3 linked regions of the Homo sapiens genome follow. The protein of the gene in region 2 interacts with the protein of the main gene of each other region in a biochemical or structural test. Each region holds a gene or a part of one and is shown on either strand. Other genes may lie near its edges.

The links.
Region 1: the proteins of SCARB2 (region 2) and AP3S2 form a complex in vitro, tested with the Homo sapiens proteins (one study listed by BioGRID).
Region 3: the proteins of SCARB2 (region 2) and AP3S1 form a complex in vitro, tested with the Homo sapiens proteins (one study listed by BioGRID).

The regions. Positions count from the first base shown.
Region 1 is NC_000015.10:89,888,935-89,900,645, reverse strand, and holds the start of AP3S2 (AP-3 complex subunit sigma-2), read left to right. Parts: upstream 1-6,651; 5' UTR 6,652-6,696; coding exon 6,697-6,765; intron 6,766-11,505; coding exon 11,506-11,597; intron 11,598-11,711. Other genes in the region: ARPIN-AP3S2 (uncharacterized protein LOC100526783), read left to right, coding at 11,506-11,597. UniProt on the Homo sapiens protein: Part of the AP-3 complex, an adaptor-related complex which is not clathrin-associated. The complex is associated with the Golgi region as well as more peripheral structures.
Region 2 is NC_000004.12:76,200,040-76,211,046, reverse strand, and holds part of SCARB2 (lysosome membrane protein 2), read left to right. Parts: intron 1-11,007.
Region 3 is NC_000005.10:115,899,229-115,910,235, reverse strand, and holds part of AP3S1 (AP-3 complex subunit sigma-1), read right to left. Parts: intron 7,352-11,007; coding exon 7,244-7,351; intron 3,416-7,243; coding exon of another isoform or gene 3,380-3,415; exon of another isoform or gene 3,375-3,379; intron 1-3,374. UniProt on the Homo sapiens protein: Part of the AP-3 complex, an adaptor-related complex which is not clathrin-associated. The complex is associated with the Golgi region as well as more peripheral structures.

The sequences.
Region 1 (11,711 bases), on a different chromosome or scaffold from region 2:
TAATTATGGAGTCCCCCTAATGTGTCGAACACAATGCTAGATGATTTCCATGATAATAATTACTCATACTTGTGCTAAGCACTTGCGATATCGTACTTCTCACAACAGTCCATGAGGTACTGATTATTATTCCCATTTTCTCATGAGACTAAAGCTCAGAGCTCTAGGATAGTATACAGTGGCAAGAGGAATTTACATCCAAGCACTCAGATTTCAAAGCCCACATTCTTAACTACCGGACTATTCATATTACAGAGCAGGAAAAGGGTCTCAGACAGGTTAAGCAACCTGCCCAGAGTCACACAGCTAATGAGTAGCAGAATCAGGATTCAAACCCAGAGCTGTCAAAAGCAAACCTTATGTTCCTTCCACTGTCCCCTGCTTCCTTGCCCTTCAGAAAGGTCTTGGAAACAGGGGCCAGAGGATGTGGTAGCCACTTCACTGGTGTTCTGTGTCTGAATGGGACTTTCTCACAGGCAGGCCATGCTGGGACCTCAGCCATGGGGGTGGCCAGGGAGGTGGTTGAGCAGAAGGATAGCTGGGGACACTGACTGGGGGTAGAGTCACCCAGTGTCTTTAGACATCCTGCTGTCTAAAGCACTGTGTCCAAAGGGTATGGCACACTTATATGGACAGGTCACCATTCCAAACAAGGAGGCCCAGTGTGTCAATAGGAGAGGTCCTAAAGCAACAAAAAGGGCGGGGTGTCTTGGATGGGCTTCAGGAAGGGAAAGACCATTGTGTCTGGAGCTCAGAGAATGGGGGCTGGTGTTTGAGATGAGGCTGGAGATTGGGCATGGCATCCTCACGCATGTTAAGGAATTGGGGACTTTATCCTTAACATCCTGGAAGCCAGTGATCCCATGGAGAGTGAGAAGATCTGATCTGTGTTTCAAAGGTCACTTGACTGCCGAGCAGCTGGAGGCGAGTTGCTCCTTTAGGAGACTGCTGCAGTTGCCTGGGTGAGAGGCTAGAGGGGTCTGGTCTATAGCAGTGGCAGGGGAGATGGAAAGAAGAGAATGATTTGAGGGGCATTCGGGGGGCAAAATCAACAGGACCTGGGGGGAGACGAAGGGATCAAGAATGATGCCCAGATTCTGGGTGAGTGGCAGTGCTGTGGTGCACAAGTAGTGATGTTATGTTTCCGGGTGACCTGCTGTTTAGCAGGAGCCCAGCCTGTGGCTAAGAAGTATAGAGAACTGAAACTAGCTCCCTAGGGATGGGAAAACCAAGTGGGCTGAGGATAAGAACAGGGCCCCAGGGCTGGGTGCAGTCGCTCACGCCTGTAATCTTAGCACTTTGGGAGGCCGAGGTGGGCGGATCACTTGAGGTCAGGAGTTCGAAACCAGCCTGATCAACACAGTGAAACCCCGTCTCTACCAAAAAATACAAAAATTACCCGGACATGGTGGCACATGCCTGTAGTTCCAGCGCCTTGGGAGGCTGAGGCATGAGAATTTCTTGAACCCGGGAGGTGGAGGTTGCAGTGAGCTGAGATTGCCACTGCACTCCAGCCTGGGCAACACAGTGAGACCCTGTCTCAAAAAAAAAAAAAAAAAAAAGAATAGGGTCCCAGGCTCAGCAGGTAGGGACACTGAGGTAAAATCCTATTCCCTAGGACTAGGGACTAGGAAGGGAGAAAATAGGAAGCTGCTGTGGCATAGGCATCTGCATGGGCAGATGGTGAGGCCAAAGCCCCTGATTTTGCCATACCTCCTGCCCTGGTCAGGACTGGTTCAGGCATTAGGGCAGGCCCAGCCAGGGCAGAAGCCTTCCTAGATACACCTGTGGGGAGTTGAGGAACTACAGCAGGGCTGAAACCCTGCTTTCAGGGGCCCCCATGTGGCTGGTAGGGGCAGCTTTTGGAAGCTAGACTGGATCCTATTACTCCCCAGATGAAAAGTTCAAATTCCTTAATACAACTCAGAGCTCATCACAATGTCACAACCCTCCTTTCTCGGCTCGCTTCCTCCTTAAGAGCTCTGGGGCGATTCTTTCAGACCAGCCTGAGGGATCTTCCACAGGTTGTTAATAGGGCTAGAAACAAAAAGTGGTGGTGTTTCTATGATCTAATTTGTTGGAACAAACGTAGTGTTAAACTCAAACATTTCTGTAGGATTTCTTGGAGCTTTAACTATACTAACATTTACTGTAACTCTTCAGGACAGGGTATGATTACGTATTTCCCACATTTCTTTGGTCAGAGAACCCGTTTTTGTGAGGAGCATTTCATGGGACAGCTGTTGTGAGAAACAGTTTGGGAAGGGCTGTGTTGGTCCCATGGAGGGGCTGGCTGTTCCCAGAGCAGGTCACTCCCCCACTTGCATTGCCTTGCCTGGACTCTTTTCTTGGAGGGAGGTCCCTTTCCTCTACCCATCTGAATTTTTTTTTCTTCCACCAGTGTCCAGCTTGCCTTTCACCATGGGCCTAATGATGGAAATTACAGTTATTTTGTATCTTCAAACAGAACCAAGCAAATCCTCTGAGCTTCATTCATATGGGAAATTTTCTTTCTTTCTTTTTTTTTTTTTTGAGATGGAATTTCGCTCTTGTTGCCCAGGCTGGAGTGCAATGGCTCAATCTCGGCTCACTGCAACCTCCACCTCCCAGGTTCAAGAGTTTCTCCTGCCTCAGCAGGAGGATTACTGTAATCCCAAGTAGCTGGGATTACAGGCCTGCGCCACCACGACTAGCTAATTTTGTACTTTTAGTAGAGATGCGATTTCACCATGTTGGCTAGGCTGGTCTCGAACTCCTGACCTCAGGTGATCCACCCTCCTCAGCCTCCCAAAGTGCTGGGATTACAGGCATGAGCCACAGTGCCGGACATTATGGGAAAATTTTTTGAGGGACTAAACTAATCTCCACAAATAGCAATGCATTTAGGAAATATATTTAAAGGGGAAAAAAAGACTCATAGTTTCACTCAGTCATGTTCATAATTTTTAGTATTTGGGTTTTTTAGCATGTAATTTGTGTACATAGTTTTGGTTTTTGTAAACTTGCATAGGGGTTTTCTGGTACAAACTGGAAAACCTGCTAGACAAATTCTGAAACATCTGTAATGCTTGTAGGTAGTTGTTGTAACACTATGCCCACACATAATCACTTTCCATATTGCTGCATAGTCTTTGTAACCATTTTTCTTCTTCTTTTTTTTGAGATGGAGTTTTGCTCTTGTTGCCCAGGCTGGAGTGCAATGGCGCGATCTTGGCCCACTGCAACCTCTGCCTCCCGGGTTCAAGCTATTCTGCTGCCTTAGCCTCCCGAGTAGCTGGGATTACAGGCACACGCCACCACGCCCGGCTAGTTTTTGTATTTTTAGTAGAGACGGGGTTTCACCATGTCAGCCAGGCTTTTCTTGAACTTCTGATCTCAAGTGATCCTCACTCCTCAGCCTCCCAAATTGCTGGGATTACAGGCGTGAGCCACCACGCCCACCTGTAACCATTATTTTTAAGATTGCTACCATTGGATAGTTCTGTCATGGTCCAACTTTTGGATATTTAAAATTGATCCCTGTGTGGCTAACAGAATTAATGTTTCCAAAAATGTTGAAAATTATATAGTTCTCTTAATTCCCCACCTCTAACTATATTTTTGGGTTATTTCTTTAGGAACAGATGCCCAGGAGTCATATTACTGAGAATCTAGAAATCTTTTGCAAAGTTCTTGTTATATTGCCAAATTGCTTCCCAAAAGGGTTGTTCTAAACCATAATTTCACCAGCAATGTAGGGGAGAACCATTTTTATGCTGCCCTTGTGAGAATTGGGTATGAAAACATTTTTAAAATGATTTTTGATGAGGTGAAAATAATATTTGAATATATTTTAATTTGCCTTTCCCCCACTTATAGTGAGCTTAAACATTTTTTCCTTTTCCTAGCTGTATTTCTCCCTTTGTTATTCGTTCTTTCGTCCATTTATCTACTGGGGAGATGGGGAGTGTTATCTTTTTAGTTTATCAGTTATTTGCATTTTAAATATAACCATTTGCCATATTTTAACAACGATTTTTCCATTAAATAATTCTTTTTATAAAAAAACTTTATATATCTGTTGATGTTTTGTGATTTTTATTGCTTCTAAGCTAATACAGATTTTTGGATCTTATTCAATTTCGCTTTCTTCTGTTTAGGTTATTATCTGGTTTTATACCTAACTACTTATTTTCAAATTGCTAACCAGTTATCCTAATAGTATTTACTGAATTCCTTCCCACTCCTACATCACATATTAAAATTATTTTATGCCTAAATTATTTATAATATTTCAGTTATTCTTCCTATAATTACAATTTGAACCATCAAAGTAGGTTTTCATAGTTGGCAGAGCTAGTTCTTCTTCATAATTCTGTTTCAGAATTTTCTTTGATATTCTTCCTCAACATTTTAAACATTTTGTCAAGTTTCAGTGCAACTGACTTTTGGTTTTTATTTATTTAAAAACTGGGCCATGCCGGGCGCAGTGGCTCACGCCTGTAATCCCAGCACTTCGGGAGACTGAGATGGGTGAATCACTTGAGGTCAGGAGTTTGAGACCAGACTGGCCAATGTGGTGAAACCCCATCTCTACTAAAAATACAAAAATTTGCTGGGCATGGTGGCATGTGCCTGTAATCCCAGCTACTGGGGAGGCTGAAGCAGGAGAATTGTTTGAACCCGGGAGACGGAGGTTGCAGTGAGCCAAGATTGTGCCACTGCACTCCAGCCTGGGCAACAGAGTGAGACTCCATCTCAAACAAACAAACAAACAAACAAACAAAAAACTGGACTAGGCGTGGTGGCGGTTTGGGAGACTGAGGCTGGAGGATTGCCTGAGGCCAGCAGTTTGAGGTTACAGTGAGGTATGACTGTGCCACTGCACTCCAACCTGGGTAAGACCCTATCTCTGAAAAACAAACAAGCAAACCCCAGAACTCTGGCTGCAAAAGTAGTACATATTTCTTTGAAGGAAAAAAAGGAAAACTTGATAATCCTACCACCCAAAGATGTTTTTAAATCACTTATGTGGTACTCAGTTATGTGCCATGCACTGTCCAAGTGCTTACAAATATTATACTAACTCCCTTTGTGTTTATAACAACTGTCTGAAGTCAGTAGACTCATTTTCCAGTTTTCCAGTTTAGGAAACTGATATTACACCTTTTCTACAGATGGGGAAACTTGCCCAGGGTGCCCAGGCAGTCCGCAGAACCATGCTTTGAATCAGGGCAGTGTGGTTCCAGGGTCCTGTACAGATCAAACACCCTGACTCTGCCATTCCATCAGATACATGATTCATATTTTGGTGTATTTGCCTCCAATCTTGAGCAAAGTGGGTTGTCCCTGTACATACTTTGTGTAATCTTTTAGCTTAACAGGTGTCATGAACACTTCCGTATCATAAATCTTTCCCAGCATGATTTTTATTATCTATTTAATATTTCTCATATTCAATGTAGAACAATGCACTTAACCAATTTCTCATTTTTGTAATAATTTTCTTCCCATTTTCCCCTGTAATAACACTGCTGAGATATATATTTTTTTCTTCTTTTTTTTACTGTTCTGAAGATACTCTGGCAGAAATGTATGTTCCTCAGGCTAAATCTTTTCACACATCCACAATCATTTTATCATAAATTCTAGAGCTGGAAACGCTGAGTCTAATGTTTTATATATATATATATATATGTTATATATCTGTCACCCAGGCTGGAGTGCAGTGTGGTGTGATCTCAGCTCACTGCAACCTCCGCCTCCCGGGTTCAAGCCATTCTCCTGCCTCAGTCTCCCAAGTATCTGGGACTACAGGCGCGCGCCACCACAACCGGCTAATTTTTGTAATTTTAGTAGAGGCGGGGTTTCACCTTGTTGGCCAGGCTGGTCTCGAACTGCTGACCTCAAGTGAGCCGCCCGCCTCGGCCTCCCAAAGTGCTGGGATTACAGGCGTGAGCCACCGCGCCCGGACTGTTATATATTTTAAAGGCTTCTGATCCATATCGCCAAACAGTCCTCTGGATCGATTTGCATCTGTATCCGCTGCTCCATCTGCAGTATACGGACATGCTCCACTTCACCCACACTGGGTCATTAAAAGAACAAACAAAAATAAGAACTTGATCGATTTGGGATTTTAAATGGAAATGCACTAAAAATTCCTTAATTCCACCATTCACCGTCTACCATAGAGGAACAGCCCATCTGCACGGAGAGACAGCTACGTAATTCACTGCAGCATTATAATACTGAAAAATTAAAATGAACGAAATGTTCCATAACCGACGAACGGCCGAATGACCGGCGTCTCCACTCCGCGGAACGTTCTGCGAGCGCTAAGGGGATGGCGGGAGTGCATGATTTGGAGCGGGCGGTGAGAAAAGCAAGCTCCCGCCGCCTCTCCGTTTTGGCAACCCGGCTGACGGTCGTTTCGGCTTCTGGGGCCAGCCGTCGGTCTGGGCGAGGGACATAGATCCGGATTCGCATCCTGACTGGCCAACCAACGCTGGCCGAGGTGACCACTCTCCTCGGCATCCGCACCTGCCCTCCAAGGCGTCAGAGAGGCCGGACCCTTGGGTGCTAGGGCTCGTGAGCGCCGGGGCCAAGTTTCCGAGTGCCGCTCTCAGCAGCGCACCAACCGGAAGTGATCGTGTTGTGGCGGAAGGAGGAGCTTTCTGGGAGTAGCCGGTGCTGAGAGAACCGTGGCTGGCAAAGATGATTCAGGCGATTCTGGTTTTCAACAACCATGGGAAGCCACGGCTAGTCCGCTTCTACCAGCGTTTCGTGAGTGCGGCCCGGCTTCACCACGCCCCTTCAGGGCGCCCACTATGTCTTCCCTCCTCTTTGGCCTCTCGGCGCCCGGGGGCACCGCTCTTTGGTCACCTGGGGCTCCTGCACCGAGCATGACCCTCGCCCTACTTAAGCATTTAATCTAGGCGCAGGCTGGTGCCAGGCCTTCTGTCTCCCGCCCTACTGCCCCGCTCTCGCTGACCCTTTTCTTGATCCTGGCATTTCTGTGCCATTTTGTGACATTTTCCCGTGGGTCTCTGGGAACGAGATAGAAGCGACAGTGGGGAGTGTGCCTCGATGAGAACTTGAGTGATTGAAGTCACATTCTGTCATCTTTTTGGTTGTTGACCACAGTTTCATGAGGAAGAAATATTAAGTTTCTGAAAGTTTTTGTTATAGCCAGAACTGGAAAAGTTCTTTTTTTTTTGGAATTATTTTGCTTCAGTGTTGGCTGGGACTTTCCAGAGACTAGATACCCTTCACTCTTAGGGTTGAAGAAAATCAGTTTAAAAGTGGAAAAATGATGAGAAATTATAAATGCTGCCGCATAAGGGCTCAATAAGTGATTACGTAAATTTGAATTTTCCCAACACGTTCCTTTGCAAACACATAAACATCAGTATTTGCTTCCTGTCTTCGAAGATTATATTTCTTCATGGCAGGGTTTCAAAATGTTACATAATTGGGGGACTGGTGGAACTGAAGAGGGGAAAGAGCCAGAAAACGTGTTCAGGCTTCAGCTCCACCTTTTCTACTCTTGCGTCTGTTGACAAGTTAATAAACCCTTTTCAGACTTTTATTGTCTTTTGTCAATTAGAAATGAAAAAATAATTTTACTCCTTCATAAGATTTTTAAAGCTAGATTACATTTTATTAAGTAGATTACATCGAGGTAAAAATATGAGTATTCAGGCCGGGCGCGGTGGCTCACGCCTGTAATCCCAGCACTTTGGGAGGCCGAGGCGGGCGGATCACGAGGTCAGGAGATGGAGACCATCCTGGCTAACACGGTGAAACCCCGTCTCTACTAAAAATACAAAAAATTAGCCAAGCGCGGTGGCGGGCACCTCCAAGTCCCAGCTACTCAGGAGGCTGAGGCAGGAGAATGGCGTGAGCCCGGGAGGCGGAGCTTGCAGTGAGCCAAGATAGCGCCACTGCACTCCAGCCTGGGCGAAAGAGCGAGACTCCATCACACACACACACAAAAAAGTATATATATATATGTATGTATATGAGTATTCAGCGTAACTATTTGTATTTGCATTTGTGTGTATGCAAATTTCCCCCCTAGTTTTTTTCTAACAGGGTTACTGAGATAAAACTAACATGCCATACTGTTTACTTATTTATTTTATGTTATTTACTTATAGAGACGGGGTCTTTCTATGTTGCCCAGGCTGGTCTTGAACTCCTGGGCTCAAGCAATCCACCGGACTCAGCCTCCCAAAGTGCTGGGATTACAGGCATGAGCCACTGTGTCCGGCCCCAGTTTACTTATTTAAAGGGGACAATTCAGTGTTTTTTAGCATGTTCACAGAAGCTGTGTAACCATCACCACAATCAATTTTAGATCATTTTCATCACCCCAAAAAGAAACCTCTGCCCATTAGCAGTCACTCCCTATTTCTCCATGACTCTCCCAGCCCCAGAGAGTTTCTTTCCCTCTAAATTTGCCAGTTCCAGAATGGCAAATGGAATTTGCCTATTCCGTTGCCTATAAATGGAATCATAAATAAGTGGTTTTTTGTGTGTCTGCCATGTTTCATGTAGTATAATGTTTTCAAGATTCATCCATGTTGTAGCATGTATCTGATGTTCTTCATTTCTTTTATTGCTGAATAATATTCCATTATATGGATATGCCATATTTTGATTGTCAATTTATAAGTTGATATTTCTGCTTTTTGGCTCTTCTAATTAATGCTGCTATGAACATTCTTGTGCAAGTTTTTATGTGGACTTATGACTTCATTTCTCTTGGTTATATACCTAGGAGTAGAATTGCTGGATCATATGGTAACTGTGGTGAACATTTTGAGAAACTGCAAACTATTTGACAAATTTTCCAAGTGGCTGCACCATTTTACATTTCCATCAGCAATGTATAATGATTCCAGTTTCTTCACATCCCTGCCATTCGTTATTTATTTATTTATTTTTGGTTAAAGACATTTTAGTGGGTGTAAAGTGGTATCTCACTGTGGCTTTTTTTTTTCCCTCCGAGACTGAATCTCACTCTATCTCCCAGGCTGCAGTGGCGTGATCTCGGTTCACTGTAACCTCTGCCTCCCGGGTTCAAGTGATTCTCCTGCCTCAGTCTCCTGAGTAGCTAGGATTACAGGTGCCCACGACCATGCCTGGCTAATTTTTGTATTTTTAGTAGAGATGGGGTTTCGCTGTGTTGGCCAGGCTGGTCTCGAACTCCTGACCACAAGTAATCTGCCCGTCTTGGCCTCCCAAAGTGCAGGGATTACAGGCGTGAGCCACCGCACCCAGCTCATTGTGGTTTTGATTTCAGTTTCCAAAATGACTAATGATGTTGAGCATCTTTTCATGTGCTTATTGCCCATTCGTGTATCTTTGGATCATAGGATTTTTATAAGACCTCATGAGCTCATGGATGAAAGTACCTTGAAAACTACAGAGTACTAAAAAGATATGAGGGGTTATTAAAATCACTGAGGCATGTAAGCAATTGGTAGTTTACCTTTTTATTGAACTAGAAATTAGGTAGCCTCATCATTTCGTACCACTTCCCCACTGCTGCCACTTCCCCCAGAGTCAGATAAAAGGCTTTAGTTCAAAAGATGTCTTTGTCAGTTTTAAAAAGTGCTGATGCTTAGCATGTTTTGTATTTTGCATATATAGAGTTCGTCTCCTACAGCATCCTGTCATCTGTGAGCTTTGTTTGTTCTTTAAATGGAAATGAGGAAAATAGTGATTAATTTACTCAAATTTGTAGTGACCAATGATTAGCAAGTTTTCATTCAGTCAGTAAATACTGTGAGCCATTCCATACCCATGTGAGTCAAAGTAATTTCCCCACAATTACGTTTTCCCTTTTTTCCCCTCTCTGTTTCTTTTAAATAACCATTTCAAAGCTAAATTCAGGGCTATAGAAAGAAAGGGATTAAAATTACTTGAACCTATTTTCTAACTCTTGGGGCAAGTCCAATTTGAAGGTTTTCTTATGATTCGTTACTCAAAGTGTGGTCCCCAGACCAGCAGAAATGTTATTGCCTGGGTGCTTACTAGACTTGCATCTCAGGACTTAACCTATACCTGCTAAATCCGAATCTGTATTTTAACAGCATTCACAGCTGATTCATTGCAAATGAAGATTTGAGAAGCAATGCTCTAGAGCTTTAAGTTATTATCTGTCTTAATTGCTGGTTTCTCCCTCTCTTACCCTTTTAACCATACTTCTTCTGAAACTCATATGTATAATTAGAAATCAAAGGTGAGTTATCAAAGTGATTTCATCAGAGTTGAGCTTTCTTATGCACGTAGTAAGTGAAAAAATAAGGCCAGACATGGTGGCTCACACCTGTAATCCCAGCACTTTGGGAGGCCAAAGCAGGTGGATCACTTGAGGTCAGGAGTTCAAGACCAGCCTGACCAACATGGTGAAACCCCATCTCTACTATAAATACAAAAATTAGCCGGGCATGGTGGCACATACCTGTAATCTCAGCCACTGGGGAGGCTGAGGCAGGAGAATCGCTTGAACCCGGAGGTGGAGGTTGCAATGAGCTGTGATCACACCACTGCCTGGGCAACAGAACAAGACTCTGTCTAAAAATAATAATAATACATTTTATTTGTAACTGTTCAAAATTTTAATCTGTAATCTATTTTTCTCAATAATACTTTGTTGGTGAGTAACACAGCATCTTATATGTAGTATCTATATTACCAGTACAAAAGATGGCAGCTGTATTTGCCAATATAACTTTTTAAAACATTTACATGATTACTTCTTGACCTTTTTTTTTTTTTTTTTTTTTTTTTGAGATGGAGTCTCACTCTGTCGCCCATGCTGGAGTGCAGTGGCGTGATCTCGGCTCACTGTAACCTCCGCTTCCTGGGTTCAAGCAGTTCTCCTGCCTCAGCCTCCCGAGTAGCTGGGATTACAGGCATGCGCCACCACGCCCAGCTAATTGTTTTTTTGTTTTATTTTGTTTTGTTTTTTTTTGTATTTTTAGTAGAGATGGGGTTTCACCATATTGGTCAGGCTGGTCTCGAACTCCTGACCTTGTGATCTGCCTCCTAAAGTGCTGGAATTTCAGGCGTGAGCCACTGTGCCTGGCCCACATCTTGACCTTCTTAAAATGTTAGACCTGTTGAGATTTATTATATCTTTGTCATAGATGTTTTCCAGGGGAAGACAAAATATTTCAGGATCAGGCCTTCCAGTTATTCTCTGACTTTGTATGAGAGTTTATCAATGTTCCTTTTCTTGTTTAAATATCAGCTTACCTATAGGACAGTAATGGTTAGTGACTTAGATATTTAGGTAAATATACCCTATCTTAATTCCTGTATCAGAGCATTGTCACCCATCTTTCATAGATTCACTCCTATTTTTTCTCATCATTTTTATCATTTCTAGAAACAAGTACTAAATGTTTAGATGTTCCCAGCTTAGAAACACTTCTTCCCTTGTCCATCCCCATGGATGGGATGTAGTTTTTCAGGCTTGCCCACTGATTCACTTATCTTTTTGTTTCATAGCCAGAAGAAATTCAACAGCAGATTGTTCGAGAGACTTTCCATCTAGTCCTCAAGCGGGATGACAACATCTGTAACTTCTTGGAGGGTGGAAGGTAAACTGTCAGCTTCATTTTTCTCCCCATATATCCACTTGTGAGTGGCCTTCATTATTGCATCTTCTGACAGTACTCAAGTGTCAGGTGGGTACTTGATGCAACTTTAGCTGG
Region 2 (11,007 bases):
TCATCTTTATTGCCACTAGTATTACTATGGGAGAATTCATTCATAACTTGATTCTAATGTAGTTATAATATAATCTACTCTGATATTTCCAGTTCTTTGTTTTTTCATTTGAAGATTGTCTATGCCCCGACTTGTCTATGTCAAAAAGGGAAGAGGGAAAAGGGATGAAATTCAAATGAGTAGGTGTGGGAAGCTTAGTAAGAGAATTCCTATCCAAAAAGTTGTCTCAAATGATAATTGTCCTTGAACCCTGCAGTGACCAGAGGTAACTGAAGAGAGACTTTTAATTTTGGCCAGTGAATATCGTGGAAGGAACCAAGACAATTTTGTTTCATTTTTGGCCTCAGTGGTGACTGCCTCGTATTGGGCAAGGCCTGTAATTGTTTCTGCTTCAATTTTCTCATTTGCAAGAGAGGCATAATAGTACTTCTCTTTTTCCCACACCCTCTTCCTAGGGGATATTGTGAGCATTAATAAGGCATTTCCTTACAAGCGTTTGGGCCTTCATGAAGAGAGAGCTTTGCAGAGACCCAGCAGTTCCTTTTCCTCCCTTAGGCCTGGAAAGGCAGGAGTTTACGTTACATTTCATCTGGTATCCCAGTGAACTGCCTTGACACCTAGCACAGTGCCTGAGATACATATTAAATGCCTCTTCACTCGCCTGTGATCATTTTAATAGAAAGAAGAGTGTCCTGAGAATCAGCAGAACTGAATCAAACATTTTTTTTCTGTCCCTAAGGATTTCTTGGACTAAGCTGAACAAGCACAGTGGCAAGTTATTTAATCCCTCAAATCCTAAGGATCCTCATTTTGAAAATAGGAACAATAAGGATAAGAATACTTAACTCAGAGTTGTCACAAGAATGAAATAATATGATATCTATAAAGCACCCAGCACAATGCCTCGCACAATGCCTGAACGTTAACAGTTGTTATGTCTTTAGCTATATTTGTCATCTGTGAATTGAAACTTATTATACAAGCTATGGTTCCTCTTAGCTCCAAACTTCTGAGATCCCATGACCTTTAAGAGCAGCTATGCAGTTCAGAATATTAAGTTTGCGCTCCTAATCTCTGCAGACGTGCTGGCAGGTTGACTGTCTCCCAGTAATAGGGATGCAGAACTGGCCACAGTCAGGGCTGGCCAACAAGGGATGGGATGGCAAGGGAACCAGTGGGAGACTGTTTACACCTTTGACTTCCTCTTCACAGGTCAAGGCAGGACTGTAGCATTAGGTCTCAGAGATGCAATGAACAGGACAAATACACTTCCCCTTCATCTGGACCTGAGGCTCTGGGCAAGTCAGTACCAGCTGGTTTCTTTTGGGAGCCATAGAAACTCTGGAGCTGTTCTACCGATTCCTCAAGAAGTAAAATATAGGCCAGGCGTGGTGGCTCACGCCTGTTATCCTAACACTTTGGGAGGCTGAATCGGGTGGATCACAAGGTCGGGAGTTCGAGACCAGCCTGGCCAATATGGTGAAACCCTGTCTCTACTAAAAATACAGAAATTAGCTAGGCATGGTGGCAGGTGCCTGTAGTCCCAGCTACTCGGGAGGCTGAGGCAGGAGAATCGCTTGAATCCGGGAGGCGGAGGTTGCAGTGAGCCAAGATGGCTCCCTTGAACTCCAGCCTGGGCGACAGAGCAAGACTCTGTCTCAAAAAAAATAAAAATAAAAATAAAAAAAGAAGTAAAATGTAATCACTGATAACCAGATTGCTTTGATTGGTGACTATGGGATCTTGTTTTTTAAAGTCAAATCAGCAAAACATCTTTATTGATGTGTATGTAAAGGCATTCAGCTATATATCATTTTAAAAGGCTCCTTCTTGCATATCTACCTCATCTCCTGAGTTGCCTCTATTCAAAGAAGACTTATCTTAGTCTGAGATTTTTCTTGATCAGAAAAAAACCTGTAAAGATATCTTAAATCTGTTATCTTACGGTCAAGGAAATTGAGGCTCTTGGAATAGAAGTGACTTATCTAAAGTCAAATGGAGAGGGAAGGAGAGAGCGTGCCAGCTAGCCTTCTGATCCTGAACCCACTTTTCCCATCTCAAGGATGACCATACATCCCATTTGCCTGGAATAGTCCTACATGGTTTCTGTGTACCTGTTGTGCTGGTGTAATCACTAACACCCCCTTTCCTCCAAAAGATTTCTGCTTTGGACAATAAATTCTATGGCCATCCCTCACCTCTCATGCTACATTGTCCTTACAGACCACAATGTATCCCGCTTCTTGGCTCTCTTAAGGAGTTGAGGCCTACTCAAACTAGCTCTGGCAAGAGAGGATTCTTTTTTTTGTTTCTGTAAATCTGGAAGGGGAAGCTCATAGAAATCAAAGGGCAAGAACCACGGCACAGTAAGGCCTCCTGAGAGGACAACCGAAAGTGGAAAGTCAGCAGGAAGCAGGCACACTCTGCCTCCCACTTTTTCCTCTGCTTTCTCCACCAACAGGCTTCCTCTGTTTACTCAGCCTGGCTCTGTACTCATCCGGGCTTGCTCAGCCCCGCCTCAGTGTGACTTTCCAGCTGTTGACCTCTCATAGACATGCTTCATCTCCTAGTTTCTCTTTTCCAAGTTTATAACGGAGCAATGTGATTGGCTCAGCACAGGAAGAAACTATAGCACTGTAAACGGAGGCAGTGTCGTTAATTTCCTTGCAAGATTCTCTAACTCCTAAGCAAAATTATCCAAATTCTTTCCTGGCTTTTAGAAACACGATCTTGTGATATCAAAATCATATTAAGTTTATTTTAGTGTCTTACTAATTCATGTTGACTATGAGTGCATTCCTTATTAATGATTAAGACAATATAGTAGGCTAACAGTTGTCAGCATAGCCCCTAGACTCTAGGAGATGCATCTAAATCACTTACAAAGATTTAGAAAATACCAGACCCCATCCCAGACTTGCTGAATCAGACTCATTAGGAACAGAACTCAGGTTAAAGTGCTTATCATAAAATCCATTACTGGAGGCAGGTTGCTGTGGGATCGTAATCTGCAATTTTGGGAATATGCATTTTTAAAAAAGGTGTTTATATTTGTATAGTGATTATTTTAGACCATGTCTTCATTCCTTAAGATGGTAATTCTGACTGAGGAGATTACTACTTATAATTACTATTAATCTGCAAGTTTACATTAAAGGAAATATTATTTGGTGAGGAGGGGAAGATTCCTGCCTGTGGAAACTACTTTGCTTTATTGTTAAATAAATCCAAGATTTCATTCTGTCAGGCCACAGCAGAGGGGCCATCTGTTCTGCCAGACATTTGCTTATTTCCCAGGAAGAATCAGGAGGTGGAATTATAAGCTCATTGATGAAAACATAGGATGTTGGCCAAGTTACTAGACATTCCTGGCCATATCATCAAGATATGCACTATCTATACACTATACACTAAGGAAGGGACCATTTTTAATCCAAGCTGGTAACTGGAAAAAACAACCAAGGAAAAATAAAGACCACTTTAGGTGTTTGCTTTCTATATCTAAATGCACTTTTGGGTACATGCTTTGGCAGTCATTCTTTCATTTGACAAATATTTACTGAGTGTGTACCATTTGCAAGGCAGTGTGCTAAGAGCTATGGATATAACACTAAACAAGAGGCAGTCTCTACCCTTGCAGATTTTATAATCCAATTTAAACTCCTGGGCCCCTCATATTCTTAAAAATTATTGAGGACCCCAAAGAACTTATGTTTCCATACCTATTGATAGTTACAATATTAGAAATTGAAACTGATATGTATTTTTGAGAAATGTTTAAAACAGAAGACTACACAAGCACATATTCCAATATGACATCATTATATATCACGTAACCTCTGGAAGACTCCACTCTACACTCAGAGAAATAATAGAATTAAAAACGCAAATGATACCTTAGTATTAAAATAGTTTTGACCTTGTGGGCGCCTCCTAAGAAGGTCTTCGGGCTCCCCAGGGGTCCTGAGATCACACTTTGAGAACTGTTGATCTAGTTTTCATTTAATTATTTTTTTAGAATATTTTTAAAAATACATAATATCCCTGTTTTATATTCCTGTAAGGCCAGTTTGGAAGCTATCTTGTTAATGTTTTCAAACAACCAGGATTTTGCTTGGTGTGTCTTTGATTTACTGTGTCCTTTTGGCTTTCCTGTGAGTCCAGTGTTAAAAATAGGAGTTTGGGCCATCAGTAATTCCAGTTCCACAATCTCTTGTCTTTCCCCGAGTGCTGATCAAAGTAGACAAGAGCATTCATATCTCCATAATTGAATTACTCAGTAATTCCCTTCTGGCCTCAGCCCTGCGGGGATTTTCAACCCATATGACGTAATTTGGTATTTTAATCTAGTATGAAAGCTCTCTTTGAAGGTAGATGTCCTGTCGTATTTAGTTTTGTGTCTTTTCTTACTGCCAAATGCAATGTCTTATTCAAAATAGATGGTCAGTAAGTGTTACTTGGATGAATAGAGAAAATAATTTCTTTGGAAATGATTTTGTTTGCATTTTGTTGTTTAGTCTCACATTTTGCCTCACTCTGTAGGCCAGTGGTCACATGTTTGTCTCATGAATGATTTATACCTTTAAAATCTGGAAACTTCACGTATTGGTCCAGATTTCCAGCTTCTCTTGAAACATGTGGATGTTCTTTGGTACTCGTCATACCAAGTTCTGTGTGGTAGCTGTCTCGGCAGAAAAGAGGCTGACCCTTAGAAGAGACCTGCCTTCCCTGTTTCCCACTGTCTTAGTCCATTCAGGCTGCTGTCACAAAATAGCATAGACTGGGTGGCTTATAAACAACAGAAATTTATTTCTTACAGTTCTGGAGGCTAGGAAGTCCAAGATCAAGGCCCCGGCAGATTTGGGGTATGGTGAGGGTCCACTGCCTCATAGATTATGGTCTTCTCACTCTAACCTCACATGGCAAATGAGCTCTCTGGGGTACCTTTTATGAGAACTAATCCCATTCGAGAGGGTTCTACGCTCGTGACCTAATCACCTCCAAAGGCCCCACCTCCTAATCTCACCACCTTGGGGGTAAGGATATCAACAAAGGAGTTTTGAGGGGACATAAACATTCAGACCACAGCACCCACCGTCCTTTGCGCCCTTATTGGCTCCCAAGGCCCAGTGAAGGTATCCGTTGTTGTGCATGTGCTGTTGTGTTTCTTAGAGTAGAGAAATGTTTCTCTATATCTGACACTCCTTACCAAAAGAAGGAAAATGAAAGATAGCTTGAGAGGATCATGTGTTTAACAGAAATGGGGGAGGGCATGTTTCTCTGTAGAAATGAATATTGCTGCTGGGGTTTGACATGCAAACAAATGTACAAACCCATGGCCTGTGTCACTCATTTGCCCTAGCCATCTGGCCCCTTCAGCATCTGAATTTTACACACTTTCCAGAGACAGTGTGAGGCAGAGTGCCATTGTTACACTAATGTAATCACTCATCACAAGTCCCATTTTTTAAAATTCATTTTTTAATTGACAAGTCAAAATTGTACATATTTAGGGCATGCAACATGATGTTTTGAGAGAGATATACATATAGATATACATAGTGAAATGGCTAAATCAAGCTGTTTAACATACACCTTACCTCAATTACTTATCTTTGTTTTGTGGTAAGAACACAAAATCTAATCTCAGCATTTTTCAAATATACAATATTTTGGGGTTTTATTTTATTTTATTTTTGTTTTTGTTTTTGTTTTTGTTTTGAGATAGGGCTTCTCTCTGTCACCCAGGCTGGAGTACAGTGCCACTACCATGGCTCACTGCAGCCTTGACCTCCTGGGTTCAAGCCATCCTCCTGCCTTAAACTCTAAAGTTGCTGGAACTACAGGTGTGCACCATGCCAGGCTAATTTTTAAATATTTTTTTGTAGAGATGGGGTCTTGCTGTGTTGCCCAGGCTGGTCTCAAATTCCTGAGCTTAAGCAATCCTCCCACCTTTGCCTCCTAAAGTGCTGGGATTACAGGCGTGAGCCACTGTGCCTGGCCCAATATATTGTTATCCACTGTGATCACCATGATGTACATTAGATCTCTTGAATTTGTTTATATCAAACTGAAATTTTGTGTCCTTTGACTAACATCTCACCAGTCCTCCCAGCGCCCACAATTCCCATTTTAAGGATATTTTCTTTTAACACTGTACTTCTGATAATCAACAGTAGTGGAAGAGGAGACATAGAAATAGGTAGGTAATGAAAATATTACTTATTTCAATTTTGAGAGATATAATCACAACCAAACAGGTTGCAAAATAATGAGACTGGCTGTGCAAGTTACACACAGAATGTGGGCCTTGTTTCCGTGGCCTTATTTCTTATTTATTCACATCTGAAACTCCTCTTTCTCACCCGCCTCCCCACTCCCCATATATGTATATATATATTCCCCTCCCGCTCCCAATTTTCACCTGGTTCTATGTTTAAGTTTCTATCGGTAGCTGCTTTTTTTCCCTTTAGGTCATCAGTTCTCAAACTTGGCTGTACATTTGTAATCACCTAGAAACTTTCAAAAATAAGTTAGTGGGTATTTTGTAGCAGGAGGTTTTTTGGGATTGTCATTCCACCATATTGTCCTGTATGTAATTTATAAACAAAGTACAGTTCACCCATGAGCTACATTTGAATCTGAACTATCAGAGCTCATTAGTTAAAATTATGACAGTTGCAAAATGAAAATGAGTTAAGCAACAGTGACATAAATAAATGAATGCCAATACATTTTTACTGAGTTAAAATAAGGTCAGGGAATAAGAGTAGAATGTTAATGGCAGTTTCTTTCTTTTATGTAAACAGTGGAAATTACTTAAATTACTGCATGAGTCTGGGTTGGGTTTGCTTCGTTTCAGGGAGCAATTTTAAAAAACAAAGCAAATCAATTGGTGTTTTGCCATTTGATGAGTTTTATTAATCTGGAGTCCAGTATACAATTAGGCCAATATACCATCCATACACAATTAGGGCAAGTTCTCCAAGTTGGTCTGCATTATCTCTGGATGAATTTAGACTGTGCAGATGGCAACATGGATGCTTAAGTTGTGTTTAATTATGAAGTAGCACTTTACTGACCTTAAAGAACAACCAGTAGTGCTCTCGAATCCCGAAACTTTCCTTAAAGGTATTACTGATTCCCGTGAAAGCCTAATGGATTCCCTGAGTGCTTATTTTTATCACTTGGAAGTGGCTTACATCAGGACAGCTGGTTTCACCACTCTCATGGTGTTGCCTTCCCAAAAGATTGCTGTTAGGCTGACTTGGGTTGTGGCTGTATTAAGTCATGTCAGTGTTCAGCAGTCAAGCTAATCCAGCCTGCATCTGTTCCTTCATCTGCAGGTCAGGTGTCAGCCTGGCCAGCGACTCCATGTTCACTACACACAGCTCAGAGAGGTTGTTCTCAGTTCTGTCTCTGACCAGCCTTCTGTGTACCCAAATGGAAGCTTATGCTGGTTGAAGATTCTTTTACTTTTGTTTTAAAACAGTCTCACTTCATACATGGTAAAAACTGTTATGCTTCTCCAGTAATTCAAGAAATGCAAGTTCAAACAAGAAGATGCTATTTTGCCACTACTGAGGAAGCAAAGATTTCTGAAAACCTTAAACACCAATATTGGGATGGATATGCTGAAATGGTTGCTCATACACTGCTTTCTGGAGCAACTTGTTGATATTTAAAGGCTGATGAGTTCATGAAAACTTTTTGTCTCTAGACCCAATAATCCCAATCTAGGAGTCTATTCTAAGAAATTATTCACTGATTTGGGCCAGGTGTGGTGCCTCATGCCTGTAGTCCCAGCACTTTGGGAGGCCGAGGTAGGTGGATCACTTGAGGCCAGGAGTTAGAGACCAGCCTGGCCCACATGGTTAAACCCCATCTCTACTAAAAATACAAAAAGTAGCTGGGTGTAGTGGTGTGCACCTGTAATCCCAGCTACTCCAGTGGCTGAGGCATGACAGTCAAAAGTTGCAGTGAGCCAAGATTGCACCACTGCATTCCAGCCTGAGTGACAAAAGCAAGACTCTGTCTCAAAAAAAGAAAACAAAATTATTCACTAATTTGGACAAATATATTCAAGAACATTTACTTCAGCATGAAAGCAACACAAATGTCCTATAGTAAAAGAATGATTAAATAAACTGATTTAGTATATTTTTTTAAATATACTAATACAGTGGATTAGTATACAGACATTAAAATAACAGTTTCAAAACCTATTTAATAACAAGGATAATCGTTTATAAAAGATGAGTCAAAAAATGATACAATACATATGATCTCAATTTTGTTTAAAATACACATATATATGACTAGACCAGAGGGAAATAAACCCATATGTTAACAGCGATAGTGTGGATTACAGGGGATTTAAATTTTGTTCCTTTTACTTTCTTCATTGTCCAAATTTTCTGTGACAAATATAATGGAATGGGTAGGGAATGGATGGAGTAGCATTTACCTGATTTAAAGTAACAACAGGCTGGGCACGGTGGCTCACACCTGTAATCTCAACACTTTGGGAGGCTGAGGTGGGCAGATCACCTGAGATCAGGAGTTCAAGATCAGCCTGACTAACATGGTGAAGCCCTTTCTCTACTAAAAATACAAAATTAGCCAGGTGTGGTCATGTGTGCCTGTAATCCCAGCTACTCGAGAGGCTGAGGCAGGAGAATCGCTTGAACCCGGGAGGCGGAGGTTGTGGTGAGCCGAGTCATGCCACTGCACTCCAGCCTGGGCAACAGAATGAGACTCCCTCTCAAAAAATAAATAAGTAACTGAATAAATAAAAAATAAAGTAACAACAATCAGTAGCATCATTTGTGAATAGAAATTGGAGGCAACACATGACTTTTTCTGCACATTTGTAGTAATGTTATCTGCTACTTTAAACATCTCTTCTAATATGAATATAGAAATTTCTGTAGATTGATAATTTATCATAATATCTAGGTATTTTTCCCTTAGATAAATGTGATGTTTTATTGCTTACAAGTCTAGTTTGTTCCTTGTTATATCAAGGAGTTTTTAGAATTCACCAATAAAATGAGAAGGTAGGAGATCTTGTCTACCATTATATCTCCAATACCTAGAACAGTGGCTTAGCACAAAGGAATTGCTAAGTTAATATTTGTGGAAAGAATGAAAGAGTTTCATCAGTTTTAAGGTTGTGAAAATCCTATGCTATACTTGCTATGAAAAAGGATGTTATAAAAAATTCATTAAAACCAAAATTGCTAAAGACAGATCTAACAGACTTAGAACTAATGTTTGTGTGCCTTTGGCATATTAATTATGCATAAAAATAGACCCTGCTAATTCCAAACTAGTCTTAACCATTTATGAAAGGAGGCCAAAATGTCTCCTTGAAAAATAATATTTGCAGCTAAGAAAGTTACTGTCTCTTCTTGATTCTGCAGTACTGAAATTCAGACTTTTTATTTATTCAGATCACCTTTCTTACATATTATTTAGAATATGCGGCATTTTGCCACATTGAAGATTTTACCAAGAAGAACTGGGTAAACAGCAGAAGATGAATGCCTGGCACAGCGTTGTGCTCTACGCTGCGGTATCATCTGTTTCTTCATTAATTATTTATTGTGTCCCTTCTGTGCCAGAAACCATGTTATGTGCTGGGGATCCATGAAAAAGATACAGTTCTTAGTATCAGACCCAATCTGACACTAAAGACTAATGAACACATTTTCCTTATAAAACTTGTGAAGTTTCATGAAAGCAGAGAGAAAACACATAGTTCAGAGGGGCCTTCTGAGAGATGGCACTTCTGAATTGAGCCCTGAAGCCCAAGTAGAAGTGAACCAGGTGATAAGGGCCCTGCAGAGACTTCTGGGTGAAGGGCGGTGAGTGACTCAGGCCAAGGCACTGGCTGAGAACTTGTGTGGTGGGTGCTAGGTAACAGTAGATGGTTGCGTGTTACTGGTGCATAAAGTGCCTACCAGGAAAAGACAGCGACAGGTGACGCAGTTGCATCAGATCACAACAGGTCAAGGACTGTGGACTTTATCCTTTGAGCAGGGGTGGAGTATCTGTTCCCTTAGGCACTTTTGACAGGCTTCTCTGAAGCCTGAGATGGATGAAGCATTTGAAAGGAAAAAGGCTGGAGAGAGGGAGACCAGTTAGGAGCCTACATACAGTATTGTCACAGTCCAAGCCAATGATGAAATGTGCCTTGGGGTAGAAATGGGGAAGAGGAGGAGGTGAAATCAGCAGGACTTAGTGATCAACTAGGGGAGAAAATCATGAGTCCATTTTGGTCATGTTGTCTTGGAGCAGCCTGTGAGATGTTTAGATGGGGGAATTTTATCACAGATCCATGCTACTGGAAGGATCTAAATAATTTCAGGCATAAGCTGTTTGTTAGGCTGAATTACTGAGTCTTGCACATAATTTTTCACTCCCTGTTACATGCATGTTGGTTTTGTGTCCTTAGCTAAATTTCTTCTTACAGACAGGGCCTATGCCTGTTTGCAGGGCATAGTCCGGGCACATAGAAAGCTCTCAGTAGGTACATATTGGGTGATTAACTGAAAAGTATGTTTTTTAGTCCAATTATTAATTTAGCTGTTGACACTGTGAATTCACCATAGAACTTGATAATTTTCCAGTATTTTGTTTTAGTGGTAGTGCCACAGTATTGTGCGTGGAAAAATTCATTATGTTCGTCTTGGTTAAAACTAATAAGCAACAGTTATATTGTGACTCCACAGTGCCACTCTTAATATCCAGAGTCACACTGTAAAACTGATTTAAGGCCTTATGTTGCTTTTTCATTTAGTGTAACTAAGAAGACTCAGCTGATTACAAGGTTTGTCTGGTGGCTGTCATCACCACAGCAGAACCCTCGGTGAGGAAGATCAGTTGTTCCCAAGCCATGGCTTTCTGTTCAGACTGGCAAAGGGCGCCTTTGAGGGGGACACTAGCTCGTTGTATCTGGCGGAATGAATAACTTCCTGTGCCAGACAGTCCGCGGTCTTGAGG
Region 3 (11,007 bases), on a different chromosome or scaffold from region 2:
GTGGAGTGAGTGATGCAATCATGGCTCACTGCAGCCTTGAACTCCTGGGCTCAAGTGATCTTCCCATCTGTCTCCTGAATAGTTAGAACTACAGGTGTGTCCCACCACGCCTAGCTAATGTAAAAAATATACATTTGTAGAGATGGGGTCTCACTGTGTTGCCCAGACTGGCTCAAACTCCTGGCCTCAAGTGAGTCTTCTGCCTTGGCCCCTCAAAGTGTTGGTATTATAGGCGTGAGCCAGTGCACCTGGCCTCACATGACTTTTATTGCATTATACTGTTATAACTGTTCTCTTTTATTATTAGTTGTTAATCTCTTACCGTGCCTATTTTATAAATTAAATTTTATCATATGTATATATGCATAGGAAAAAACATAGCATATATAAGGTTCAGTAGTATACACAGTTTCAGGCATCCACTGGGGGTTTTGGAATGTACCCAACACAGGTAAGGGGGGATTACTGTAAATACATTTTTAAACGTAAAAGTAAGATATTTCTGACAGTACAACATAGTTCTTAAAGATTTAAGATTATATAGTTGACACACAGCAGAAATAAAAAGAATGAAATTCTACTGGAGAAATAACTTGTTTCCATCTATGTTATACCTGAGCACCACCATGGCAGGTAAAACTGCAGCGACTACACCAATAAAAACAAATATATGAATCCAAAGCAGTTAAGAATATGAACTGGATGAAAGAATGAAGTACAGTATATAAAAGAATGATCATGTTTTCTCTCCCATGAGATTAAATAAATTAACAGAATTAAGAGAAAGAAAACAAAATGAAGTCTGCAAGTATACCAAAATGAGGCCAAACAGATAAAGACTTATACAGACATACTCTTGGAAATTTCAAGCACTTGAATCACAAAGATAGTAATGGATGGATATGATTTGTTTTTGATTTTGTTTTTAAATTGCCAGACCCAAAAATAAACAAAATATGTGCAAGCAAAACTGAAAAAGCAGCATTACTAAAATGTATTTCGAAGACCCTGAAAGCTCCCTTTTCCTCATGCAATAAACAATCAACTTTCTTGAAGGGAAAAGGAAAGTAATAGAGTAATCTTGTTATTTATTTCATCTAAGACATAAAATACCATCCTACCATCTTAAAATATCTTTTTTTTTTTCAAGTTTGAATACAGCATAATAAGATGGTAGTTGGAACAAACTGTACGTATTAAAACCTTTACCCACCCTTCCTGCTGGAAGTTGCTATATGCACATTCATAATTTTGACCTAACAGCAAAGTGAAAGAACACCAACATTAATAAACACAATATTAAATGGTTTCAGACTCAAAATCATTAACAAAATAATGGCAGATTTTGAAAGCATGTTTTTGAGCAAAAAAGAAAATGTCAATAGTTTAAAAAATCCCTCAACACGAGGTAGAATAACTTTTAATCTGGGGATATATAATAGGCTTTGTTTTAATGGCAGTGCTTTAATACTGCAATTATAAACATTTAGATAAGCTCATGACAATTCTCTAGACAGCAATAACTATGGTGTTTCACAGTTTTAACAAAATTAGAGTGCTCAAAAATTTAAAAAACCTTCCAAATTATTAGTCATTTTGTACGGATTATCTTCAATTATAGCTTTAATTTCAAACATAGGATTTGCCTGCATGAAAAAAAGAGAGCAGACTAATGACTTTCATGGATTTATCATTACTAGTTTTGACCATTACAAGTGACCTCAAGGGTTCTCACCATAATTTTGTAGAAGTACAAGACAAATGTGTATGTCAAGGTAGAGAGGCAGAACCAGCTCATGAGCTGACCTTCCACCATCAGTACCTTAGAGCCACTTTTCTTATTCTCTCCTCTTTGAAAACAGAAACTTGATTTTTTTTAAAAAAGGCCAATTAACAGTTCTAGCAATAAAGTTAACAGACCCAAGTGATTAATGGTTCTTTGCTGGAAAATAGCAGTAATAAATTACATACTGTAACACAGAAACTGGCAATAATTCTGACCAATGGTGAGAATGAGACTACTATGTATTCTCTATATGAGGGACAAAATAACATGGATAGAGGGACCAAAAACGGTACCCCAGTTTTGTGACATAGCCCACAATCTCAAAATAAGATACTATAAAGCCACCTGTATGTTGCTACTTCTTCTCAAACACATCGAGAGAGTAAGTAAAAATTTAGTGGCTAAAAGGCAATGCTTTGTGATATCACCACAATCATCAATTCTCAGTGATGTTTTTCTAATTAGTAAGTGCATAATCTAACTTCGTAAGTTTATACATTTTTTCCTCCATAGGACTCAATAAATTACTTTTATTTTGAAATTTTCAATCAGAGACCTTATAAACATTTCTTTTGCTTACATGGTTTCACACAAAATAGTTGCTCATCACCACGTACATGGAACTTTTAAAAAAGTAATTCACACAGTTAATTTATGGTGTGAAAAAACGTACAGGAAATATCAGAAGAAAAATTAGTTTTGTAAAACTAGAGGTCTATTAAAAATATTTCCAATATTTGCCAATACGCTTTGCAAAAATATTCAGGGTTTTTAATTCAATACTAAAACATTAATATATTTTTATTGATTCTGATTATGACATGTTTGGATGTCAGAAGGTTTGCTACAATGAAAACCCATTGTATTTTGGTGATTTGGTAATTTGGTAATTCCATTTTTCGAGCATTCTAGTTTGAAATACAGTCAAGTTTTATAAGATTTCTGATCTTATTTTCTGTTGGCCACTGTTAATATGCACCTGCAGGTCAAAACTGTAAAAGCAATTCTGTTAAGACTTTGGAACTGAAAACCATTTGAGGGGAAAAAGTACTATTTAACAGTCACTATTCTAAGCCTTCACTGCTTCCCATTTTGTATGCAAAACTCTGAAGGTTCAGCTTTTGGTTTTTAAATTCACAGCTTCCAAAACCCAGCAGGCAATTTTATGTTAGAATCCTAATTTAGAGATGGAAAAAAAACAAATCTGTGAGAGTTAAATTAAGATTGGTTCTGCTATATGATGCTCAAAATAAATTTTACGTTTTTATATACAAAGTAAATTGTCACTTCTGCAAATGCAATTTGTCAGTTAGATGACAAGTGTTTAAAAAAAATTTAAACTTTCCTTTTACAATGCAGGCAGACAAAACAGAACAAACATGACATCAATGATATACTAGTAAAATACACTAAGTCCAATAAAAGATGAAGAAACTACAAGGAGAAACTAGAATGGAAAATAGGCTACAGGGACTATATGGGTTTATTAACACAAAGAATTTTTGAGTCTGGCCTAAATAATTAATTGCCTTTGACATCATTTTGCTTTCCCTTTGTTATAGTACATATTTCTCAAAGTCAGCAATACCTTGTCTACCTGTCCTGTCTGGGAGACTGAAAGATAAAGGTCTGTAAGAGAGAAGAATGGAAAGAGCTAGAAAGATCAGGATGTTCGGAAAAAAAAGAGGACTGACTTTCAAAAAGTAGTGACTAAATTCAGACCCATTTATCCATCTTAAGAATAACATGAAATACATAAAAGCTAACAGATCTCCCCAACCCCACCCCTCTACCTCCACCCCCAGGGAGTCCTTTTATTCTTAGGCAGGTTCCTGAGTGCCTCTTATACTTCCCCCGAATCCCATCAACCTCCCAGCTTAAACCCTCCTCTCCCAATATTCCAATGTTATAGTAAACCATTTTTCTATCAAAATAGAATAGATGGAAATACATTCAGAGTATATCTTTGCTTCTCTCTTTCAGGATCTGGCAGAGCTTTGCTTCCACCTGTCTAGGTATTGGGAATTAAACTGGTTCACTTTTTTCCATTACCAGAAATGTACTAACTTTAGACCAACATAATAAAAGCTCTGATTTCTGACAAAGGCCCCTAGATAAATGCATGTTATGTTTAAAAAGCTGTGTCTCAATTATACCCAGACTGATTTTTAAATATAAATGATGTTCCTAAGATATTACTTAAATAATTTTTAAAAATATTGATAACCAGTTCTTTTCATCAATCATGACATTCTCGATTTTAAACAAGTCTTTTTTTGTGTGTTTGTTTTTGAGACGGAGTCTTACTCTGTCACGCAGGCTGGAGTGCAGTGGTGCAATATCAGCTCACTGCAACCTCCGCCTCCCGGAATCGGGCGATTCTTGCGCGTCAGGCTCCAGAGCAACTAGGATTACAGGCAAGTGCCACCATGCCTGGATAATTTTTTTGTATTTTTAGTAGAGACGGGATTTCACCATATTTGCCAGGCTGGTCTCAAACTCCTGACCTCAGGTGAGCAGATCACCTGAGTGATCCCAAAGTGCTGGGATTACAGGCGTGAGCCACTGCGCCCAGCCAAACAAGTCATTAAGTTTGTCCTTATATAATACATTTTAACTGAAATTTAGTAAGAAGATTAGGAAAAGTTTATACTTTGTTTCAAGTAATTTTGGATTATTCTGCAGAGTAATATCTCTGGTAAATTTAACCAATTGAAGTAACATGGACATGAAACATATGAAAGCTTTTGACATTCTAGCTGGAATAAAGCTAGAAGCCTTTCAAACATACTTAAAATATACAAAAGCTACGAAAAATTAGTCATCATAATTTTCAGTGCTGTTTTAAAAAGATGATCAGGGCTAAATGGCCTCACTTTGACTTGAAATCCGATTTCATAACTAAAATATTAGCAGACGTTACATGTATAGAAAATATATAATTTTGTAGTTTATCCCCAATCAGACTTAAAACATACTTTCTTGTAAAAGACAAAAGAAGAGAAACTAATTTGGTACCAGATAACAATTATGTATGATGCGAGATGATCAGGGAATGAATAATAGAAGTAATCACCAGTATTCTAAACTATTTTAAATAGCATTATTTCTGTGAATAGATTTTAAGTTATAGTATTCTTATAACTATTTCCATTGAAATGTAAATTACGCATTTTACTGCTCTTTATAGATAAGAAAAATTGCCTCATTAACGAAGTTTTATTCAACAATCAAAAAGCAAATACCCATTATGCAATAATTATAGGTCCTTCATAACTTTTGTCAATATAGCACATTAACCCATTTATGCCGGAGGTTGCAAACTTTTTTTTGTGAAAAATCAGACCTTGGGGATGACCTTGAGCAGTAGGATATAAATAACTCCCACAAGCTTAGCATTCCAATAATGGAACACCAGGCATAAATGTCTTAAGTAGCAGAAGAAAAAGAAGGACCACCACCAATGAAAAGGAGTTAACTACCTAGAAAGGTGAAAATTCCAGACAACTGGTCAATATTTTTTACAGATGATTATGCAGAATTCACAAATTACTAGATACTCATTCATTTATACCAGTTATTAAAGGATTGCATCACTGTTTGTCCCTTGGCATTTAAAATCTATAACCATACAGTTTTGCAAAGCAATGTTTAACAAATGACACACATTTTAAGTTCTTTTAAGACTTTAAAAGCAATAGCTCAGGGTTTATAATAATCTTTTCTTTACTAAATAATATATTGCAAGTCAGTTATACTAAATTAAATTATGAGTCTTTTTCCTTGTCCTAAAACAAAATTTTCTCTATTAACCTAATTTATGTTTTCCACTTTCAAAAGCCAATATTTTAAAAATTGGCTATAGGACAAACAAAACATATAGTTAGTTAAGATAATCTTAGCTCTAAATCACCACTATAAACTTCTCCTTTGGGAAACCAACAGGAATGGGAAATTGAGATAAAGAAAAATGCAAGACTATTTTAAATTTAAAAGAGAACACTGGAAAATGTTTTATAAGCTTCAACTGTTTCTAGATTTGAGATTTATTCTTCACCCTGTGTTTTCTTCAATTAAAATGGACACAGAATTGAATTGAGTTAAACTGATCCTTTAAAATGCCAACAAGGTAAAATTTTTCAGAACTCACCTGTTGTAAATTAATGCCAGTGTATTTTTAAAACCTTGATGCTTTCAAAGTAATATTTACTTTAAATCAACGAAACATCTGAGCTTAACACTAATAATTATAAAAATAAAGTCTGTTTTTTCCAATCTGAGTTATGACTGCAAATACCAAATGTAAGAGTATCCTCAAACAAGTTGGGTGGTGAATGAGATATCAAAATTATTGATCTTTCTTTTTTTTTTTGAGATGAAGTTTTACTCTGTTGCCCAGGAGTGCAGTGATGTGATCTCGGCTCACTGCAACCTCCACCTCCGGGGTTCAAGTGATTCTTGTGCCTCAGCCTCCCGAGTAGCTGGGATTACAGGTGCGCTCTACGTGCCCAGCTAATTTATTTATTTTTTATTTTTATTTTTTTAGTAGAGATGGGGTTTCACCATGTTGGCCAGGCTAGTCTCGAACTCCTGAACTCAAATGATAAAACTACTGATCTTTCTAAACCTCTGCTAGGGTAATAAACAACCAAAATAATGTGAACCCAGGTGGCTCAGCTACAGCACCTGCTACTGATATTCAGACTAGTGCTTGAGGGAAGAGTCACTACAATTCTGAAGTAGGGTTTTATACAATGCTAAAGTGCTGGCTGTTCCTCATTTATCCCATCTAAGGTTGAATCTAACAGCAGAAAGTTAGCTAAGTATAACAAACCGATCTTATAGAATGCAATAAAGACCATGGATATATATGTACTAATGTCTAAAATATGTGACTTAACTAACTTGTCAGTGAAATCTTAGGGAAAGATTTAGAATTAAAAGATTAAGGTATTGAATTTCTTTTTTGAATGTGAACTCAAACATTCAAAATATTTATTTTGCATTTATTAATAACTTGAAACATTACTTACTTCCCTGTAAGAATTCCATTTCCTGTCCTTTCCCTTTCCAGAAGTAGTTTTGTAACACAAAATTTATATATCTTTAAAATATTAGTTCTAAGATTTCCTTGATAATTACCGACTGAAGTTTTACAAAGCAAATATTAGATTCCATTATTCAGATAATTCTTTTAGGCAATAAGATTTGGAATTGTGCTTATTACCCAAGGCAGCTATGACTGTGGCTAAAAGAAGAATACACAAAGCTGTTGGGTAGAGAACAGTCACAGAACCTTTAGCATACTACGTGTATATTCCATTTTTTAAAAACTGAATAAGCATAACGGCTGAACCTAAAGGGTGATACTGAAGGACAAACAGTGAAAACTACAAATCATGCGTAATCTGTCATCATGCTTAGAACCTTCTTAACTACAGCATTTTCCATTCTTACCTCAGATTTTTCCAGCTTATTTTGTGCATCAATTTGTGTAACAATCTCATTCATATTTGTCTCCAATACCATTCCCCCCATCACCATTTCTGCAAGAATATTGTGAACCTAAAGGGAATAAAAGAATATATACCCATAAAGAAAATTCACTAAAAAGAAGTTTCATGATTCACTTTTTGTTTCAAATACCACTTTGTCTATGTTAAAAGTATGAGTGGTAAAAACAACTTGGAGTAAGGGCTCATAATCCACTTTCATCACTACTGTGAAGCCCTAGGCAGTTATATAACCTCCTTAAGTCTGAGCTTAATGGGCTATAAAACAAAAACAATAGTACTACCTTCATAGGACTGTTGAAAGGAATAAGCAAGGTAATCCAATGCAGTACTCAAAACAAAGTAAATGACTAGTAAATATTAACTACCATTATTATTATTATTATGTGAAGTTTAATACTAAAATATGATTTATAAGAGCCTTTTATGCCAGATTCTTAGCCAACAATAATTAGGTTATTATTTTACACTCATGGTACTTAATGAAGCAATGTAGTACAGTACTTCTAACAGGCTCTAGATTGGAAAAAGGTAGAATTTTTTAAATTGTGGGTACTTTAATAGTGTTTTTACCCCCAAATCCTCTACACATGTAATATTCAGATTTCTTCTAATAAATACATCTTACAATGACTAAAAATGATGTCTTCCATTGGGGAGTAAAAATATAACTTCTGTCTTTTCATAAGGTATTATTGGATCAAAAAATCAACAATTCAGAACTGAATTACATTTCACAGAAGAATCTATTCTGCTATAATTTTTTTAAAATAATGTGGTAAGGTTAGAAATGGAGACTCCAAAATTAGATAAGTATGAATACAGACTCTACCACTTATTACTTGTAGCCCTTGAGCAGTTACTTCAGCTCTCTGAGTCTGTTACCTTATTTACGAAATAGAGACAGAAATAATATAGGCACCTCATAGGATTACCATAACAATTAAATAAATAATTTATGTAAGTGCTTAGCATAGAACCACTAGGTATTATACGGTAATTTTTTTTTCAACAAACTCTTTTTAGGAGTTAAATATGTATTACTCAATTTAAATTTCTTTGTAAGATTTCACGCAAATTTATTCATAATTTAAAAAATATCCCTGGAGGCTGGGTATGGTGGCTCACACCTGTAATCCCAACACTTTGGGAGGACAAGGTGGACAGATCACTGGCAATATGGCAAAACCCTGCCTTTACAAAAAATGCAGACAATTAGCCAGGCATAGTGCCTCACGTCTGTACTTCCAGCTACTCGGGAGGCTGACCCAGGAGGACTGCCTGAGCCCGGGAAGTGGAGGGTGCAGTGAGCTGAAATCACACTACTGCACTCTAGCATGGGCAACAGAGTGAGACCCTGCCTCAATTAAAAAAAAAAAAAAAGTCATCATTATTTACTATTTTTCATTTTGGAAGCATGGACACCTCATGCACAAATTCTGAAGACAAATTTATATAAATTAATCTTCCTAGCCAACCAAACCAAACCAGACATGACAGTGTTTTGAAAACTACCGTAACTTAAAAAAAAAAAAAAAAAAAAAGAATATAGGCAAATGACTAAAAGTTCATACAGAAACTTATGTATGAACAACAATAGTCTCTACCACACTCTGCATCCGTTTTTAGGTCCCTTTATCCAAAGCTACTCAGCTAGCTATATCTTAGGTATCCTAGAAAACTTGCTGTGCACATACTTGTTATACGTGTGTATATGCATATCTAATTTACACAAATGAGAACATATTATATACATTAATTTTCGCAGTTCTGCAAGAAAATAAAGAATTGAAAGTTAGAGGAAGGAAAGAATGAGAAATTAAGTTAGGAAAACCATAAAAGAGACTGGTGCCTGATATACATATGACAGTGATAAATGAAACTGTGTTGGTAAGAGCAAACAAACAAAAATATAAAAATTTAAAACAGTGAATCAACATTAATTATTAGACACATATTTTTATAATGAGATCTCTCACTGATCTCTGTCAGAGAAGCAAGCTGCAAATATGGAAAACGAGAAAGCCAGAAGAAATTCTGTAGTATTGTACTAGATTCTGAGGTATTAAGAAGTGGTCAATGATTTTTAATATCATATCAAGATCCAGAAACAGCTGTGCGTGTATACATACATCTATTTCCCAGCTCAGTTCACTAAGAACCAGGAGTCATGTCACCCCAGTAACAATGAGCAAACACAGTGCCCAAATCGTCATTTCTAAACATCATTCTCTACTGAAGGAAGCCAGGGTTCCTTGGAGAAATGGCTGACTTGAGGGCTGGAGCAGAAAATACGTAAGATGCTCTGTTCATTGAAAAGGCCATAAAACAATGAGCAACTTCATAATCATGAGCACCTCTAGACTGTAGTTACTATATACCATCGCCAACAAAAAGGAATCAGGGCTCCTAGAAAAGAATGGTTGACAACATGTCTGGAACAGGAAATGAATAAAATGAGTTTAGAACATCTAGCTGGACCACAACACAAGACAGCTACCAAAGCCTATGACGGGGTAGGTCAGGTCAAATGAACTAGCAAAGATAATCTGAAGGGGTTCCCACTGGCCAAAGATGGGCAACTTGAACATAATAGAAAATAATGTCTGCAACTGATTAAAACAAATCAAATATATTAAAAATTTTATGCCATAGGATACTAAAAAACTTAAATGATCTTTTTTGGTGGATATTAGAAAAGCAACCAGTTATGAAAATTGGTAACTATAAAGAAAAATACTCTAGAATTTATCTGGCCTTTCCTATATAAACTGTGCCTTTTATTTAAGCCCATCTTTGTCTTCAGTAAATTATTTCATTCTGTGCACTTTTAGTGTATTGAATATTATTTCTACCTTTAATTATACTTTCTCTTTTCTCCCAATATTTTAAGTTTGATCTAATTTTATTACACTATTCTCTTCCTTTTAAATATGAAACTCTACTGTGCTTATACTTCCCATTAATATATATCTCTCCCTCTTAAATGACTTTATTATTATTTATAAAACAAATATCAAGTTTTCTAGACCACTGAGAGACCTTGTTTTCCTACTAAAATACTTTAATTATTCCTCATTCTTCTTTCTCTCAATTGGATAAGATCCTCCAAGTACTTGTATAATAGATGTTAAATGTATCCTTCAAAGTCTCTTTTCTTCTTCTTCATGTTTTCTATCTTTCAGTCTTATGCTTTGGGATTATTTCCTACACTTGATCTTCTACCTTTAATTCAAGCCTCAATTGTGATCACCTTCTTTAAAAGTTTTCAGTCTGAAAAACTCTTTTCAAGCCCAAGAAGACTTTTCCAAATCTTAAGTACTTTTAAAATCATTTTAAAATTTCAAGTGAGGCCAGGTGGTGGCTCACACCTGTAATCTCAATGCTTTGGGAGGCCAAGGCAGGAGGATCACTTGAGGTCAGGAGTTCAAGACCAGCCTGGGCAACACAGCAAGACCCCAGCCATACCAAAATAAATAAATTTTAAAATTATAAAATTTCAAGTGTTACTCTATCTTCTCCAGTAGTTCTTTTCCATGGAGCGTAATTTCTGATTGTTCAATCTGTTAATCTCTCTTGTTCAGATGGCAGTGCTTTCTTTCTATTGGCTTACTGTGCTCAGGGCTGGCTTCCAAGATGTTATTAATGGCTAGTAGCTCCTTTATTTGGTGAAAGTAAAAGGAGTCTCTCGTTCTGTGCCTGTGGTTA